Regions from separate parts of the Homo sapiens genome. Here all the other regions are linked to region 2. The links come from fine-mapping of genetic effects on gene expression. A gene starts in region 2. Each other region holds a variant in brackets. All regions are shown on one strand. Distances are between the middles of the regions.

Evidence for each region. PIP is the estimated chance that this variant, and not a neighbour inherited with it, causes the effect. A credible set is the group of variants that fine-mapping cannot tell apart.
Region 1: its variant is the best candidate, but not a certain one, in a credible set for the expression of AGPAT5 in spinal cord (GTEx, PIP 0.61).
Region 3: its variant is the best candidate, but not a certain one, in a credible set for the expression of AGPAT5 in esophagus mucosa (GTEx, PIP 0.81).

The regions. Positions count from the first base shown.
Region 1 is chr8:6,731,414-6,736,639 of GRCh38, forward strand. It overlaps AGPAT5 (1-acylglycerol-3-phosphate O-acyltransferase 5), which reads left to right. Exons shown (of 8, transcript NM_018361.5): 4 at 1,148-1,237. Among named protein-coding and RNA genes, the nearest start is that of MIR4659A, 11 kb to the right of the region's middle. RefSeq lists an enhancer at 5,072-5,226. The variant C/T (reference allele first, on the strand shown) is at 1,938.
Region 2 is chr8:6,705,816-6,711,041 of GRCh38, forward strand. It overlaps AGPAT5 (1-acylglycerol-3-phosphate O-acyltransferase 5), which reads left to right and starts at 2,827. Exons shown (of 8, transcript NM_018361.5): 1 at 2,827-3,072. The coding sequence starts at 2,854. It overlaps MCPH1-AS1 (MCPH1 antisense RNA 1), which reads right to left and starts at 2,394. Exons shown (of 5, transcript NR_125386.1): 1 at 2,326-2,394. RefSeq lists silencers at 2,581-2,920, 2,981-3,220.
Region 3 is chr8:6,772,787-6,778,012 of GRCh38, forward strand. No RefSeq gene overlaps it. Among named protein-coding and RNA genes, the nearest start is that of MIR4659B, 30 kb to the left of the region's middle. RefSeq lists an enhancer at 1,336-1,836. The variant G/T (reference allele first, on the strand shown) is at 2,996.

The DNA of each region.
Region 1 (5,226 bases), 26 kb after region 2:
AACCTGTGCACTACTTTAAATCATCTCTAGATTACTTATAATATCTAATACATTATAAATGCCATGTAAATGGTTGTTATACTTTATTTTTTATTTGTATTATTTTAATTGTTATATTATTTTTAATTTTTATTTGTTCACATATTTTTGATCTGTGATTTGTTGAATCTGCAGATGTGGAACTCATGGATGTGAAGGGCCAGCTGCAGTAAAATGAAAGAGCAAAAATGCAAATGTACAAAGTTCAAACAAATAGGAAATTTAAAGGCATAGAATTTGATAGGCAATTACATTAAACTGTTGATAACAGTAATTAGTGATCTGTATGATATTAAAAAAAAAAAGCAAACTGTATATATAAAACTTACTTTCTCCAGTTCTGGAGGCTAGACATCCAAGATCAAGGTGTTGACAGGGTTAGTTTCTCCCAAGGCCTCTCTCCCAGGCTTGCAGACAGCATCCTTCTTCCTGTGTCCTCAGGTGGTTTTTTTCCCTGTGCCCAAGCACCGCTGGCACTGCTTCCTCTTCTTAGAAGGACTAGTTACACTGGATGACTAATCCTTCTACAGAGACTGCTAAGGTCCCACTCTGAGGCCCTTTTTTAACCTTAATTACCACCTCTAAGTCCCTCTCTCTGAATACAGTCACAGTGGGAACTATTAGGGCTTTAGTAGACTGATTTGGGGGAACACACTTCTGTCCGTAACAGTGCCACATAAATATCTTTAGCAGGATTGATTTTTTAAAATCCCTAAAGATCGTGAGACATGTTAAGGACGCTTTTTAGTGACTCTGTAATAAGTGGGTGGAAGAATTGGGAGTTAAATCCATCTGATGGATCAGGTTTTTTATTTTTAAAAATGTGTATTTAAGAAAGAAAGCATTTTCATTTTAACTGCCAACAAAACTAAACTTCATGTGTTTTCCAATACAGTGTCACATGCAGTTTTTTTGAATTATGTTGAGACAAGGCAATTTTCAGCTAAATGTTCTTTAGAAGCTAATGTTTGAAGATATTAAATATAGATTAAATTCTGAAATGTAGTTTTCATTCTGTACTTTTTGCAAGAGAAGTTGCCTTTTTGATGACTCTGGCCAATTGTTATTTTAAAAGTAAATGCTCTTTCTCCCGATTTGATTGTGGCAGCATGGAGGAATCTATGTAAAGCGCAGTGCCAAATTTAACGAGAAAGAGATGCGAAACAAGTTGCAGAGCTACGTGGACGCAGGAACTCCAGTAAGAGCCTACCCGTTTTTATTTTTCTTACCAGCTCTCAGTTTCTAAATTTAAGAATTAAATTAAAATCTAAGAATTGTTTTGACAATGTATTTTCCCATGTGTAATTACTAATTCAGGGTTATGCTGAGGTAACAGAAACCCTCTATGTACAGGTAGGCAGGTTTTTCAGCCATCAGAAAGATTGCTGTAAACAACTAGGTCCTTTGCTGGTCAGTGGACCTTAAAGAGGAATAAAAAGAGCATTTGGTGTCGTTCAGAGTCTATAAATAGAACTAACTGCATTTTAACCTGACATTTAAGCTAGTTTACAAGCTCATCTTACTTCTTGTCTTCTTTAGTATCAGATTTGGTTTTAGAAGCAGCAACTGTTTTCTGTTAGTGCAAATTTTGAATGTCTTACATGTACAGAAAAACCAAAAAAGGATGAATCTCTACAAATGTTAAATCATTCAGTGTAAATAATATTTTATAAAACTTTATTCCACAAAAGTGGGGAGAGTTCAATCTGCTTTGTATAGAATGCTGATTGCTGCCAAAGGCTTTTCCCCTGGTTCCCTCCGGAGACAAAGCACCATGATCACCGGGGCGACTTGGGCTTTCTCTTTCAGTACATGACATGTGCTCAGAAGCTTAGCTCGTGTGCACAGGCTTTCCCTTTCCTTTCTGGCTCCCTCCCTCTGTCTTCCCTCCTCTCCTC[C/T]TGCCCTCCCCTCACCAGGGGTCCTGGGCAGCAGCTGGAGCTCATGGTGAAGGAAGAATTCTTCACGGTCAGCTGGCGAAGTGCCTGGTGTGAGCATTGTTTATTCACATGCCTCTTCTAGGTGTTTTTACATTAGAACATTGCATCTGTTTTGGGCATGTGTTGGGTGACAGAAGCAGAATGGAATGAGATGAACAGTGACCCTTTATCCTGTTATAGCTAACCCTTGAGAACCAAGCTTGGTGTCTTCAAAGGGTCTGTTTAGTCTGAAACAGTGTGGTGAATTTGGGCAGAATTGTGGTCATTGCATGTAGGTCTCCAAAAGACAGAATAAGTTGGTAATATGGTTTATCGACTTTTTACAAAAAAAATTTAAAAATCATGAATTTATACCTTAAAATGTCCATCCCACTTCTCTCCCAGCTGTCCAGTCACCCCAGCAATGGATGACTGCTGTGGAGTTCCTTCTGTGTCCTGCTGTGGGCATTGTATATATGAAGCAAATGAAGATAGCTGCCTTTTGGGTGATGTTGGCATCCTATGCACAGTGGCCCCTTGCTTTTTTGCCCCCATGAATATAGCTGCCAGTGGCGCTAGGGCTGAAAAAATCAGCTCTTTACACTTGTCATGTGTCTTGTTTATGTGGCTGCCTTCGTGAGTTTCTTCTTGTTTTTGGTTTGCAGCAGTTTAAGTATCATATATCTGAGTGTCATTTAAAAATTTTTACCTGGATTGGTCCTCTGAGCTTGGATCTATGATTTGGTGTCTGTTATTAATTTTGGAAATTTCTTTGCTCTTATTTCCTTAAATATTATTCCTACCCCAGTCTTTCTTCTCCAGTTATGTTTGTGTTGGTTCATTTCTCGCTGTTCTTTAGTTCTTAGATGCATTATTCGTTTTTTGTTGGTTTTTTTTTTAATTTTTTTTTTTACGCCCCCTCCCTTTTTTCTTTTTGTGTTACATTTTGGATAATTTCTGTTGACCCACCTTTGAGTTCATGGATTCTTCCTTTGGCTGTGTTGAGTCTACTGGTGAGCCAGTTTAAGGCACTCTTCATCTCTGCTACTGCGTGTTTCATTCCTCACATTTCCCTTTGACCCTGTTTCATAGTTTCCATCTCTGTGCTAGTGTATCTATCTGATCATAAAGCTTAGTCACGTTTTCCAGTTGAACCTTTATCATTTTATTATACTTGCAGTTCTCTTAAATTCCCTGCTTGATAATTCCAACATCTGGGCCATATCTGAGTCTGCAAATTTTGATTACTTTATCTCTTCAGATTGTGCTTTATCTTGCCTTTGTCATACTTCCTAAGATTTTGCCTAACGCTGGGCCTTTTTTGTAAGACAGGAGAAATGGAGGCAAGTTGTCTTGATACCTGGAAATGGATAGACTTGTCTTTCTGCTTGGCCTTTAGTGTTGAGGAGTGGAGTCAGTCCACTGAGGAGGTGCACTGCATTTGGGTTTTGCTCATGTGCTTTTTCTCACAGCTTCAGGTTTCTGTAGAACTCATTACTTTGTTTGTAGGTTGGGGATGTCCTCCCGCTAGAGCTTTTCCTCAGTGTCTATTTCACACTCAGCGTTTTCACATAGCACCTTGGAGTGGCTCTCTTCTTTATGCCTTTCCCCACTATACTTCTTGGATACTTGTTACTGAACTCTCGCTAGTTTGGTGGTAGAAGGAGAGGGAAGGGAAGTGTCTTTTCATTCTTAGGGAGAATCTCAGGGGTGGAGCCTTCTCTGATCCTGCCTTGCTTCTGGCTGTAAGTCTGTGCCCAGTATGTATTCCTGCCTTTACTAAGAGTTTTTCCCTGTTCTCTTCACCCAGCCTCATCGAGTATTCATCCGTGCCCCATGGGTAGCAGGGTTTTGTTGCCCCTGTTCATCAGTTTCAGGCTGCTGTTCCATAGGAAAGGTAGAAAGAAGGATGTGGGCTGGGCCCTGAGCCCTTCCCACAGGGCTGCTTTTCCCTCCCACAAGCCTACATCCAGTCTTCCCTGACCGCAGTGTGTTTTCCTTTTTCTTTGTCTTGTGAGTACACAGGAGGTCTGTGGGTCGAGCCTGTGAAATGTGCTGCATTCTCCTTGTGTCTGTAGCCCAGGGGTTCGTCTGTTCCACTGGCTCATACTTGGCTTTCTGCAAAATTGTTAAAATTTTTAGCTAAATTCTTTTTACTGGTATCTGTTACATTGGCCCCCAACTAAACAACCACTTGCATCTTGTTTCTCCTTTGAGTTTTCCATGTTTCCTTAGACTTTTGGGTTAGTTGGTTGCCTTGCAACCTTGCAGCTCTCTGAAGGGTCTAAGAAAAGTCATGAATCTACAGCTTGTCAGTGTTGTTGTTGTTGTAGGGTTGGCAGTAGTATTCCTTCAGCATTCTACATACTTAATGGAAGCCGCCTCCCATTTTTGGTTAATAAATTTCAAAACTTGGAACAATGTTAGATTTACAAAAACGTCAGAAAGAACAGAGTGTTCCTGTTTATTCTTTATATAGCCTTTTTTTTTTTTTTTTTTTTTTTGAGTTGGAGTCTCGGTCTGTCACCCAGGCTGGAGTGCAGTGGCACGATCTTGGCTCACTGCAACCTCTGCCTCACGGGTTCAAGCAATCTCCTGCCTCAGCCTCCTGAGTAGCTGGGATTACAGGCGTGCACCGCCATGCCCGGCTAATTTTTGTATTTTTAGTAGAGACAGGGTTTCACCATGTTGGCCAGGCTGGTCTCGAACTCCTGACCTCTTGATCCGCCCGCCTCGGCCCCCCACAGTGCTGGGATTATAGGTGTGAGCCACCACGCCCAGCCTTCTTCATCTAGCTTTAACATCTAATGTTGACATCTTACATAACATGGTATATATTTGTCAAAACTAAGAAATAAACATTGGTACCACACTATTAATTGTACTACAGATTTTTATTCAGACTTTACCAGGTTTTCCACTAATGTCCTTTTTCTGTTCTAAAATACAATCCAGAATAGATACAAATCCATTCAACTTCAGTGTTTTAAATTATTGTTTTTCATTATATGAAGTGCTGTGTGGTTTTTGTCAAATCTGTTATTTTGGTTTTAATCTTCAAGCTTGTCTTTGTTTCTTTAAGTGATAAAGGCATAATTTAAAAGGTGTGTTGGGTTATTTCAGTGCCTAAAGTCTTGTCTGAGTCACTTGTTTTCTGCTGTTCTTGCTTATGGTACTTTCTTTCCTTGTTTGCTTTGTTATCTTCCTTTGCTGCTGGCTGTGTTTGGTTAAGTTATTTGTGGAAATCAGTTGAAGCCTCAGGTGGGAGTGT
Region 2 (5,226 bases):
TGGACTCTTTCTCTTTTGCCCAGGCTGGATTGCAGTGACGCGATCATGGCTCATAGCAGCTTTGAACTCCTGGGCTCAAGCAATCCTCCCAACTCAGCCTCCTGAGTAGCTGGGGCTACAGGCATGCACAATCACACCCAGCTAATTAAAAAAATATATTTGTAGAGATGGAGGCCTCACTCTACAAAGCGCTTAAGTGATCCTTCCTCCTTGGCCTCCTGAAGTGCTGGAATTACAGGTATAGGCCACCATGCCCAGCTGAGAAAAACATTTAAATATCAGTTTAAGAATGTGTGATGGGAATACACAGCATTCTTTCAAGGGGCATCTCAACAAATTTTAAAAAGAACACTGTGGCCCACTCCAGTGCTATGCATGAGAATATGGTGATTTCTCAGCTTCAGGCGTTCAAATGTGCCATTCTCCCATGGAAAGCCCACTAAGTCCCTCAAGCTTCACCTGAAATACCATTTCACTGAGAAGTCTTCCTTGTCTCCAGACTAAATTAGATTGCCTTGATATATGCTCCCAGAGAACCAAGAATGTCCCCTTTTCATCCCACAGGTAACTCCTTGTTAAATGTTGTACAAGGAAGGCATAGACAGAATTCACCTTTCACTGTTCCACTGGTGCCCAGCAGGGTATGCAAAGGAGGAAATCAGCTGTGCTCTGAAAGAAGCACCATTCCAGTAAAGGGGAGGAAAAGGTCATCAGACTGCAAGGGCTCAACAAAAGTACAAGGTAAGGAGGCAGAGGGTGTGGGCTGATTATCAACTAAGAGGTTTGCACGGAAAAAGGGAAAAAAAAAAAAACAGAAAAACAGGGCCGGGTAGTGGCAGAAAGAGAGGGTGGATCTGTGACTGTTCGCAGGAAGAGAGGAGCGGGAGCAGGACAGACAATAACTGATAGTCAGGAGCTGGGTTTGGAGATAAAGAGGGAACAAGAGAAAGTTAAGTTCTGTGTTTTCATGGCAAACATTGCACAAAAGTTTACAACTTCGTGACTAACAGTAATCTGGGGTGATTCACAACAAATTTACACATAAACACATATTTACTGACTTTATACACAGCAATCCTAACGTGAACACAGAACCTGCTTTATCTTTTCGCACACTGTTCTAGTGTAGAGATGTCTGGTCTCAGTTAAAGAAAGCATAAGGAGCATTAGTTGTGCACACTGTCCACACCTGTGACTTTTTTCCACCAGTACTAAACCTAGTGCTTCTTACAGTACAGGACAATGACAGCCACAGAAAGAGAGAAGCTCCTTTTACTGTGTAATGCTTCCTGCTGGCCTTCAAATACTTGTTACTTGAGAGATCTCCATTCACCTGGCTTTGTCCCCAAAGGTCATCATCTACCAATGATGTTGTTATTTGATGTTAATCATGTATAAAGAAAGTAGCTACCATCCTGGCCCTGATTAGAACTTCCCACTGAAATACCGTCCTGCCTAAAGGTAGCACAGGCTCCCATTATGGTGGTGGTGGGGAGGGGGCGGGAATATATATATATATATATATATATATATATATATATATATGGTAAAGCATTCGGCATTCTTTTAAAGTACAACTATCCTTGAAAAGGGTTACATATTAAACCATTTTTACCACAGCCAAAGGGGAGGAGAAAGATCCAAAAGTCCTGTGGATCTGCTTTAACATCAATAAAACAGTTATCCACCCTTCGTAGCTTTTAGTGAAGGCTACAAAAGTATGCTTTTTATGGATTACACATGTGCACGCAACTACTTTAATTACTACAGAAAAAAACGAGGCTCCTTATTAAAAAAAAATCAGAAACAAGTCCAACAGACTCTGAGGAAATGAAGCAAGAGTGAATTCTGAAAAGGTCTAATAAACAGTATGGAAATATCCTTGTGGGATTGTTCTTCAGCTATGCATAAACATGTAATTATCATCATTACTGTGATGGGGAAAAACACGGACCCTAATTCTGAAACACCCTGGTAGCGAGAGACGGGCAGGAGGGGCTGCTGCGCACTCAGAGCGGAGGCTGAGGAGGCGGCGTCCCCTTGCAAAGGACTGGCAGTGAGCAGATGGGGACACTCGAGCTGCCCCGCGACCTGGGCCGAGCTGCCTACAACCTGGGCCCAGGTGCCTGCAAGAATTAGACCTCCGATAACGTTAACACCCACTTTCTCACTGCTCTAATTGTGTGCATCCCGGCGCCCAGGGGCTTGTGAGCAGCAGGTGCGCGTTCCAGGCAGCTCCAGCGACCCTTAAACCTGACCGCGCGCACGTCCGGCCCGAGGGAGCAGAACAAGAGGCACCCGGACCCTCCTCCGGCCAGCACCCACCTTCACCCAGTTCCGTCAGTCGCCACCACCTCCCTTCCCGCGTCCGCAGCCGGCCCAGCTGGGGAGCATGCGCAGTGGCCGGAGCCGGGTTGCCCGCGCCCCAGCAGGTAGCTGTACTGCAACTGTCGGCCCAAACCAACCAATCAAGAGACGTGTTATTGCCGCCGAGGTGGAACTATGGCAACGGGCGACCAATCAGAAGGCGCGTTGTTGCCGCGGAGCCCCCTGCCCCGGCAGGGGGATGTGGCGATGGGTGAGGGTCATGGGGTGTGAGCATCCCTGAGCCATCGATCCGGGAGGGCCGCGGGTTCCCTTGCTTTGCCGCCGGGAGCGGCGCACGCAGCCCCGCACTCGCCTACCCGGCCCCGGGCGGCGGCGCGGCCCATGCGGCTGGGGGCGGAGGCTGGGAGCGGGTGGCGGGCGCGGCGGCCCGGGCCCGGGCGGTGATTGGCCGCCTGCTGGCCGCGACTGAGGCCCGGGAGGCGGGCGGGGAGCGCAGGCGGAGCTCGCTGCCGCCGAGCTGAGAAGATGCTGCTGTCCCTGGTGCTCCACACGTACTCCATGCGCTACCTGCTGCCCAGCGTCGTGCTCCTGGGCACGGCGCCCACCTACGTGTTGGCCTGGGGGGTCTGGCGGCTGCTCTCCGCCTTCCTGCCCGCCCGCTTCTACCAAGCGCTGGACGACCGGCTCTACTGCGTCTACCAGAGCATGGTGCTCTTCTTCTTCGAGAATTACACCGGGGTCCAGGTGAGCCGCCTCCCGCTCCCGGGTCTCGGCGTCCACCCGAGCTCCCGGGGGCGCGGACCTCTCCGCTCCCCCACAGCTGGCGAGGGTCACCCGGCCGGCCCGGCGGACCCAGCACGGAGAGCACGTGCCGCCTCCCCGCCTTCCTCTCCGCATGCTTCCTGCCGTTCTGCCGAGATCGCTCTCTAGGAAGCTGTGGCTGCGTCGTCCTGAGGCTACGAGTGGGACCCGCCGCCCCTTTCCCCGCCCCTCGCCTGGGTCTGATGCTGCTTAGCAAAGTGGGTGCAGATGCACGTTTTAAATAATAGGGCACGCGTTTAGCAGTTTCTGGCCTTTGGTCCAAAGAGGTGGTCATGTTGGAACAGATCGGAGACGTCTACACTCCGAAGTGCGCTTTTACAGTGACCTCTTGAAACAGAAGTACAATTCGGTCTTGTGTTCTTTCCCCTGGACAAGTGAAAGCTGGGCGAAGAAATGAATACATTTGTTAACCGTAGAAGCCTAACTAGATACATTTCTTGCCAACTTTAACTGGGCTTGAATGTGTGGGTGATCTGTTGTCTGATTACTTTCTTTCTGTTACTGTTTCTCTGTAGAGATTGGATTCGTAGATTAAACTTGAGAAACAAACCATAAAAGTGGAAGGCCCTCTTTAACAGTAGGTATTTGAAGTGTTATAAAAAAAAAAAAAAGGTGAATTTTTCTTTTATTTCTCAGTTTGAAAGAACAGCTTTATTCTTGGTTATTCCTAATGTCCACCTAGTCCTCTTTTACTTTTCTTGGTAGGGTTAGGGTGGCATGGGGAAATGGGACGGTATCATTTTGTCTTTTTAACTTTTTTTTTTTCCACCTACAGCAGCTGTTTTTACCCTGTGGTCAGTCAGGTACTATATTTAGTTTGCAGTTGCACTGCTGATCGACCCTTGATGGCCCCAGTTGGAAGTTGTTTGGGGGGAAGGAACTAGGAGAGGCCAGGGCCTCCATTTAAACCAGTGTCTGTAAGTGTCTCCTTGGAAAGAAAAAAAGATACTGTTCCAGGTCATGGTTTCCTGGTAGTTGACGTTTAAAATGGGCCTCATTTAAAAATTTCAATAATTCAGGCTAATTTTTTCCCTTTATATGGTAACTCCACCAAGTTTGTCTAAATGTATGATTTTTATCATGATTAAGTTTTTACTTCCACATCATGTGACAACTGGCCTGGGATGGGATATAAGCTCAGAACACAAAGTCATTCACCTCTTAAAAAAATAATTCTATCTGTGGCGGGTTATGTTATTTTTGTTCAAAGAGGACACAATATGATGCAGAATACACCATTGAAGGATTTTTTGGTTTGGCAAGTTCTTATTTTTTTAAATGGCTGTAAAACCTAGCAGTGTTTCTGAAATTGCATACCTTACCTGATGTTCAGAGATCCGATTTACTTCTTGATTTCCCAGCAAGTGATTTTGAAAACATTTAATCTAATCATTCCCCCCACCGTCTGTTCAAATCAAAGGAAGTGGCATCCAGCACTAATTTTCATGCATTTATGAAAGGATGCCTGAGGACCCTTAAGTATAATTCAAAATTTTGTTTAATGTGTGTTCCTTGATGAAGTTCTTTAGGAGTCGTAGAACGAACTGATTGCCCACTGATCATCAAATGCAAGTTATGAACATTTAATAAAAATTTAAAACCAAGAGTTTCTTGTTCCTGCATTTTTATTTTTATTGTATGGAGGGGACAAATAATTATTTTCTGTTTAGTAACAGAGCAGGGTATTTTGAATTTATTAGGGTCTTTTTCTGCAATCTGGGTTTCCTGTGTACACAAAGCTACCTTTCAATATTTTTTATTGTTTCTGTTAAGATTAAATCAATAGAGGAATAAATAGCTATCTTCAAACATAAGACCCAAAGGAAAAAGATTTATAGTGATGTTCTGTCACCTTATTTTTTACCTGTGACTTTGTACCATTAACTTTGTCACTGAGATGTTTTGATTAAAATTTTTAGCTTGCTTTTCTTGTTTTGTTAGGACACTCTTTTTTTCTTGAATTGTTTTTATCAGCTTTCGTTTGCAAGGCTAGTGATGATTCTCTTGTTCTGTATAAAGTATTGTTGACTCATTTCTGAAGGGAGTTTTAGTAATTTAAGAGGTTATAAGTTTTTA
Region 3 (5,226 bases), 67 kb after region 2:
CGACCATCTTGGCCTCCCAAAGTGCTGGGATTTCAGGTGTGAGCTGCTGCGCCTGGCTGTTCACCTTTATATTATTATTGCCCCACATGCTTGAGGCCACACTAAGCAGAAAGCCAGCTCTAAAGACTGAAATGACAAGGGTAGCCTAGAGTCACAGGGGTAAAAGAAGCTCCTGGTATTTTATTTTGAAACCATAGAAGATGAGAAAAGGCCTAGCTAACGGACAAGATCAGACACCCGAGGTTTCTCATTAAGCGTGACCTGAAAGCCTGTCTGGACAGCCGCAGATGAGGAGCAGCGCCTGCGTTCATCCACGCTGGGTGAAAGGTAAGAATTCAGGGTTACATGCGTGAAGGGGAAAGCAAGCGGGAAGCCCTTAGCATTCAAGCCCCTGAGCTCTGGTGTTGTCCACCCCTGGGGGCTGCCTGGTGGCAGGACGGCACTTCACGAGGGGAGATGGACCCCAGTGGGAACCACACTCAATCCCTCTACGCCCAGGCCGCTGTCAGACACTGGAGTCCTCCGCACAGTCCTGCAGCCGGAAGCACACGCTGCCAGTATCCCCTCCCTCCCACTCCCAGCCTACAGACAAGCGCATCTCTGCTGCATTCATCGCCGCACACGCCCTAAAAATGTCCTCACGTGAGTCTGTGCCAGCCTGCGCGCAAACCGTGAGCCCACCGCGCTGTGTGCACGCTCAGCTTCCCCCAGGCTGCGTCCCTCCCCCGTGGGGTCGCATTCCCTACTGGGAACCACTGCCTTCAAGCTGGAGCTCGGTCCCAGCTAGAAACACCCCCACTCCTTCTAATGGGGCAGTAAAAAAGCAAAACTAGCTCTGTGGAACGGTCTCTTTCAGATGTGCTTCCAGTCCCCTGTAAAACGTGTCAGCTCCATTTAGGTGAGGTCATGTTCTCTGGGGGCAAGCTCATAAACTCACGGCCGATGCAGCATCCCGGGGATCTCTGCGGGGGCCTGGACAGCCTGTCCCCACCTCCTGGAGGCCAGTCAGAGTCCGGGCAGCCCACTCCCTGGTCTCACAGGACCTGAGTCATGGAGCAGAGAGAACCTGCAGAGAGACTTTCCCATATGGAGGCTGAGGCTAGAGAGCATGAGAGCGTGGCCCTGGGCTCACCTGGTTAGAGGCAGCATGGGGTCCTCTGCAGGTCCCCAAGGCCTCAACCAGGCCTGGGGGCGGTGGGAGCAGCTCACTGATGATGAGGAACCAACTTCAGTGCCTGATGCTGTAGCAGCTGAGTCACAGATAAGCAGGCACTGGCAGCTGGCACATGCCCAGACCAACCCGACCCAGCCCAGCCCGGGCAGCGGCAGTGAGAGCTGCCAACCCCCACAGCTGCCCCTGTCTCTCACCTGCAAGCCCTGCCTGCCCCTGCCACTAGCGTGGAGCCTGTCTTCTGGGGAGGCCGGGGCAGTCCTGGTGCTTGTCATCTCTTGCAGCAGCTGCCTGGGCTGGGCTGAGTTGGGCTGGGCTGGCCTGTCTTCCTGCCATGGCTGGATATTTATATTAAACTTGAGGAAGGGAGAAAGGGGATTTACAAGGCACACTCAATTCTTTCTAACTCTAAGGTCCTGGCCTTGTCTATGTCCTTGTGGAGGGGCGATCTTGGCCAAAATCACTGTCCTTCGAAGGTCAGCATGTGCTTGGTGTCTTCCTGAATAAAGGGAAGGACATGCTGATGCCTCTTCCCCAGGCTGAAGATCTTTGGATGGTTAAGAAACTCCTGACCACACTCTTGAAAGCCGACATGCTGGCTGCCATCAGCAGCACCCCTTGGGCCTGACCTCCAAGCCACAATTAATCCTGCAAGCTATGACCCAGAGTATTGATGTCCTCACATTCCCAGATTAGCGCCCCCACCCATATCCCTAGCACCGACTCTGCCCCATGCCACCTGAGCCATGATTCCAGCCCTCAGCACACAGGTGCACACGCTGCCTGGACAATGGCCAGAGAACTGCCACAGGTCACACTGTGTCTCACGGCTTCTCACTTCCGTAGAGAAACCGGAAGACAGGTCTCAAACCAGACCTGAGGCAGCAGCAATAGCCACAGCAATGAGTGGTCATAGCTCAAATGCCTACTGCACCCCAGCCTGCCACCTGCCTTATTTAACCCTCGCAATTGTATAGAGTTGGCGTCACTATTCCCACTGCACAGAAAAAGAAACAAAATCCCAGAACAGATAGAAGATGCCCAAGGTCACAGACCTAACCATTAGAAGTGCTGCCATGTGAGCATAGGTGTAATTGTCTACGGAGCTCTAGAAAACAGATGAACTAGCAGGAAGGGTCACTGCAGGCCGGGACAACACCCAGGGAAAGGCCTCACTATGGCTGGGAAGAGCGCGGTGTGTGCGTCTAGCAGGAGTCCAGGTGTGGGGCAGGAGAGGCCGCTTGGGGAAAGGGAGCGACCACACACTGGGTCCTGCCTCATGTGCACCTGGCCATGTGTCGGCACTTGGTGTCGTTATCCTGCCCGCTCCTTACGAGAACCCTGTGAAACAGAAACTCCTCCTGATTTTACAGCTGAGGCCAAGGAAGCTCACACATCACAGATTAAATAATCGATTCAAAGTTACTGAAAGAATAGGAGAGTCCAAATCTATTTGCTTAATCCCCAGACCAGGGCTTTCTGCACGTGCCTCAGAGCCTTTGGTGCAGCTCCAAAGGGAGGCATCGAGAAACACCACCGGCTGGAAATGTGGCTCTGCTCCCGATCTTTGTCTGCGTTGGCGAGACACCGGCCGCTCTGGGCCGGAATCTCTCATCTACGAAAAAGTGGGTAGATGGAGACCACCCTCACGTTCCCTTCCAGCTATAGAAACAGTAACTTCCAGTCCTTAACTCGATGCTGTGTGGGTGTGTGGCTGAAACTGCTCACAGAGCAAGCTGGACAAGCGGACCTGGATTGAAACCCGCCCCTCCCTGGAGAAACAGGGGTGGCCTCCCTCCCCCATGGCAGGGACCTGCTGGGCAG[G/T]ACTGAAGCCTGGCTCCTGACAAAGATTCTATTCTTCTCGATGCTTTCTCATTGTTCTTTGTGTTTACAAAGTGTCTTCCTTCAAGGGAACAGTGACTTGGACAAGCAGTGCCGAACTCTGAAGGCGCAGGGCTGTGATGGCTGCAGCCTCTTGCAGTGTTTCTCGGTGTCTTTCCTTGGGTTCCAAAGCCCTTACCAGGCAGGCTTCTGGACAGTGAGTGGGAGTTGGCTCTGTTGTTATTTGCCACAGGTGACATCAGGGTAAAGGATGGATTTGGGGTGAGCCGTGAGTAGGCTATTATCCACTGCACTTGAGGTGTGAACCTCCTGGTCCCCCTCAGCAGGTCCTGGCTTGTTCATGGAATGGAGGAGTCTGGGAAGGCGCTGAGAGGCATCCGCTAGGGAACCTGTTCCACCTGGGTGCTCAGACCCTGGCAGGAGCCCTTGCTGAAGTCCAGAGAGCCCCTGGCTGTCCCCTCTCATGACACTCAAAATCTGCCGGAGCCTGCAGCCCAGCCCTGCCCAGCACCCTCTTATGGCACTCAAAATCTGCCCGAGCCTGCAGCCCAGCCTTGCCTGGCAGAGCCCAATCCACAGATCTTCCTGCCCTCAACCTGCCAGTTAACAAGTTAGCCCTGTTTTCCAGGGCCTGAAGCTGTTTAGCAGAAGTAAAAAGGCCTTTAGGCTGACCAAGTAAACATGTGCAAAACACATCCCTGTGCCAGGTGGTTCTGGGGTCATGGAGATTGTTACGGGCTGGATTCGGTCCTCCTAAAATTCTTCTGTTGAAGTCCTAACCCCTAATACTCAGAAGGAGATATGACTTTAAAGAGGTAATTAAGGTAAAACGAGGTCATTACATGGCCCTAATCCAATCTGACTGGGTCCTTACACATGGAGGAGATTTAGGACGAGGATACACCTGGGGGAAAATCCTGTAAGGACACAGGGAGAACACACGTCTAGGGGCCAAGGAGAGAGGCTTCAGGACAAACCAGCCCTGCCAATACCTTCTACTCTCCAGAACTGTGGGAAAATCAATTTCTATTGTTTGAGTCATGCACTCTGTGATATTTGTTATCGCAGCCCAAGCAAACTAATAAAGAGATTGATACAAAATCACCCCTAAGCTCTGAGAATCACTGTGTAGCAGGAGATGCCAACACATAAGACGTGATGTGTTCCGTCGGGAAAGTCACACACCTCTCCTCTGACCACTCCACTCCCCACTCTGGATGCGGGTGGGGCCTTTGGCTTTTGGTGAGGCCCCTCTGGTGTCTCTGCCCACAGAGCTCCCTCCACACCTGTATTCAGGCCCCAGCTCAGGAAGCTTCCCAGGAGAGTCAAGTACACACAAAGCCTGTGCCAGACAGAAGTAAATTAAGACAACCTGGATGCTTTAAATCTCCCCTCCCTCCTACAGTTACTGTGATCTATACGCCTCTAACGTCTGACATTCTCAAAGCAACTCGGTGCGTGTCCATCTGTCTAGAGAGCTCTTAAAAGGCATAAGAGCAGAACGATCACCAGCGATTCCGCAGGCACGTTCTCACACGGACGTTAGTAACAGCTGAATTAAATGCTTTTTGAATGAGTGATGTATTGGATGCATTTGTTATTATTTTACTCTATGAACTATAAAGAAAGATTGATGACACCTAAACTCTTGGGCAGGATCCCCTTTTCCTTGCTCTGTAATGCACTTCCCCTGGCAAACTCCTACTCACTTCTCAAAACCCAACCCGAGGGTTTGTCTTTCTGAAGGCTACGCTGTCTCCACAAGCTGAGCTGATCAGCCCATCCTTAGAACAATCACTTGTTAAACCCAATGACAAGGGTGTGATGGGCTATGTGTGTCCCACCCCTAATTCACACATTGAAGCCCTCACCCCTAATGTGATGGGATTTGGAGGCGGGTCCTTTGGGAGGTGATTAGGTTTAGATGAGGTTGTGAAGGTGGTGTACGAAGCCATTCTTCACTGTTCTAAAGAAATACCTGAGATTGGGTAATTTATAAAGAAACGAGGTTGGCTTGGCTCATTGTCCTGCAGGCTGAGCAAACATAGCGCTTGCCTGTGCTCAGTTTCTGGGGAGGTCTCAAGGAGCTTTTACTCATGGTGGAAGGTGAAGTGAGAACAGGCACGTCACATGGTGAAAGCAGAAGCAAGAGAGAAGGAGGAGGTGCCACACACTTTTCACAACCGGATCTCGCAAGTACCTGCTCACTATGC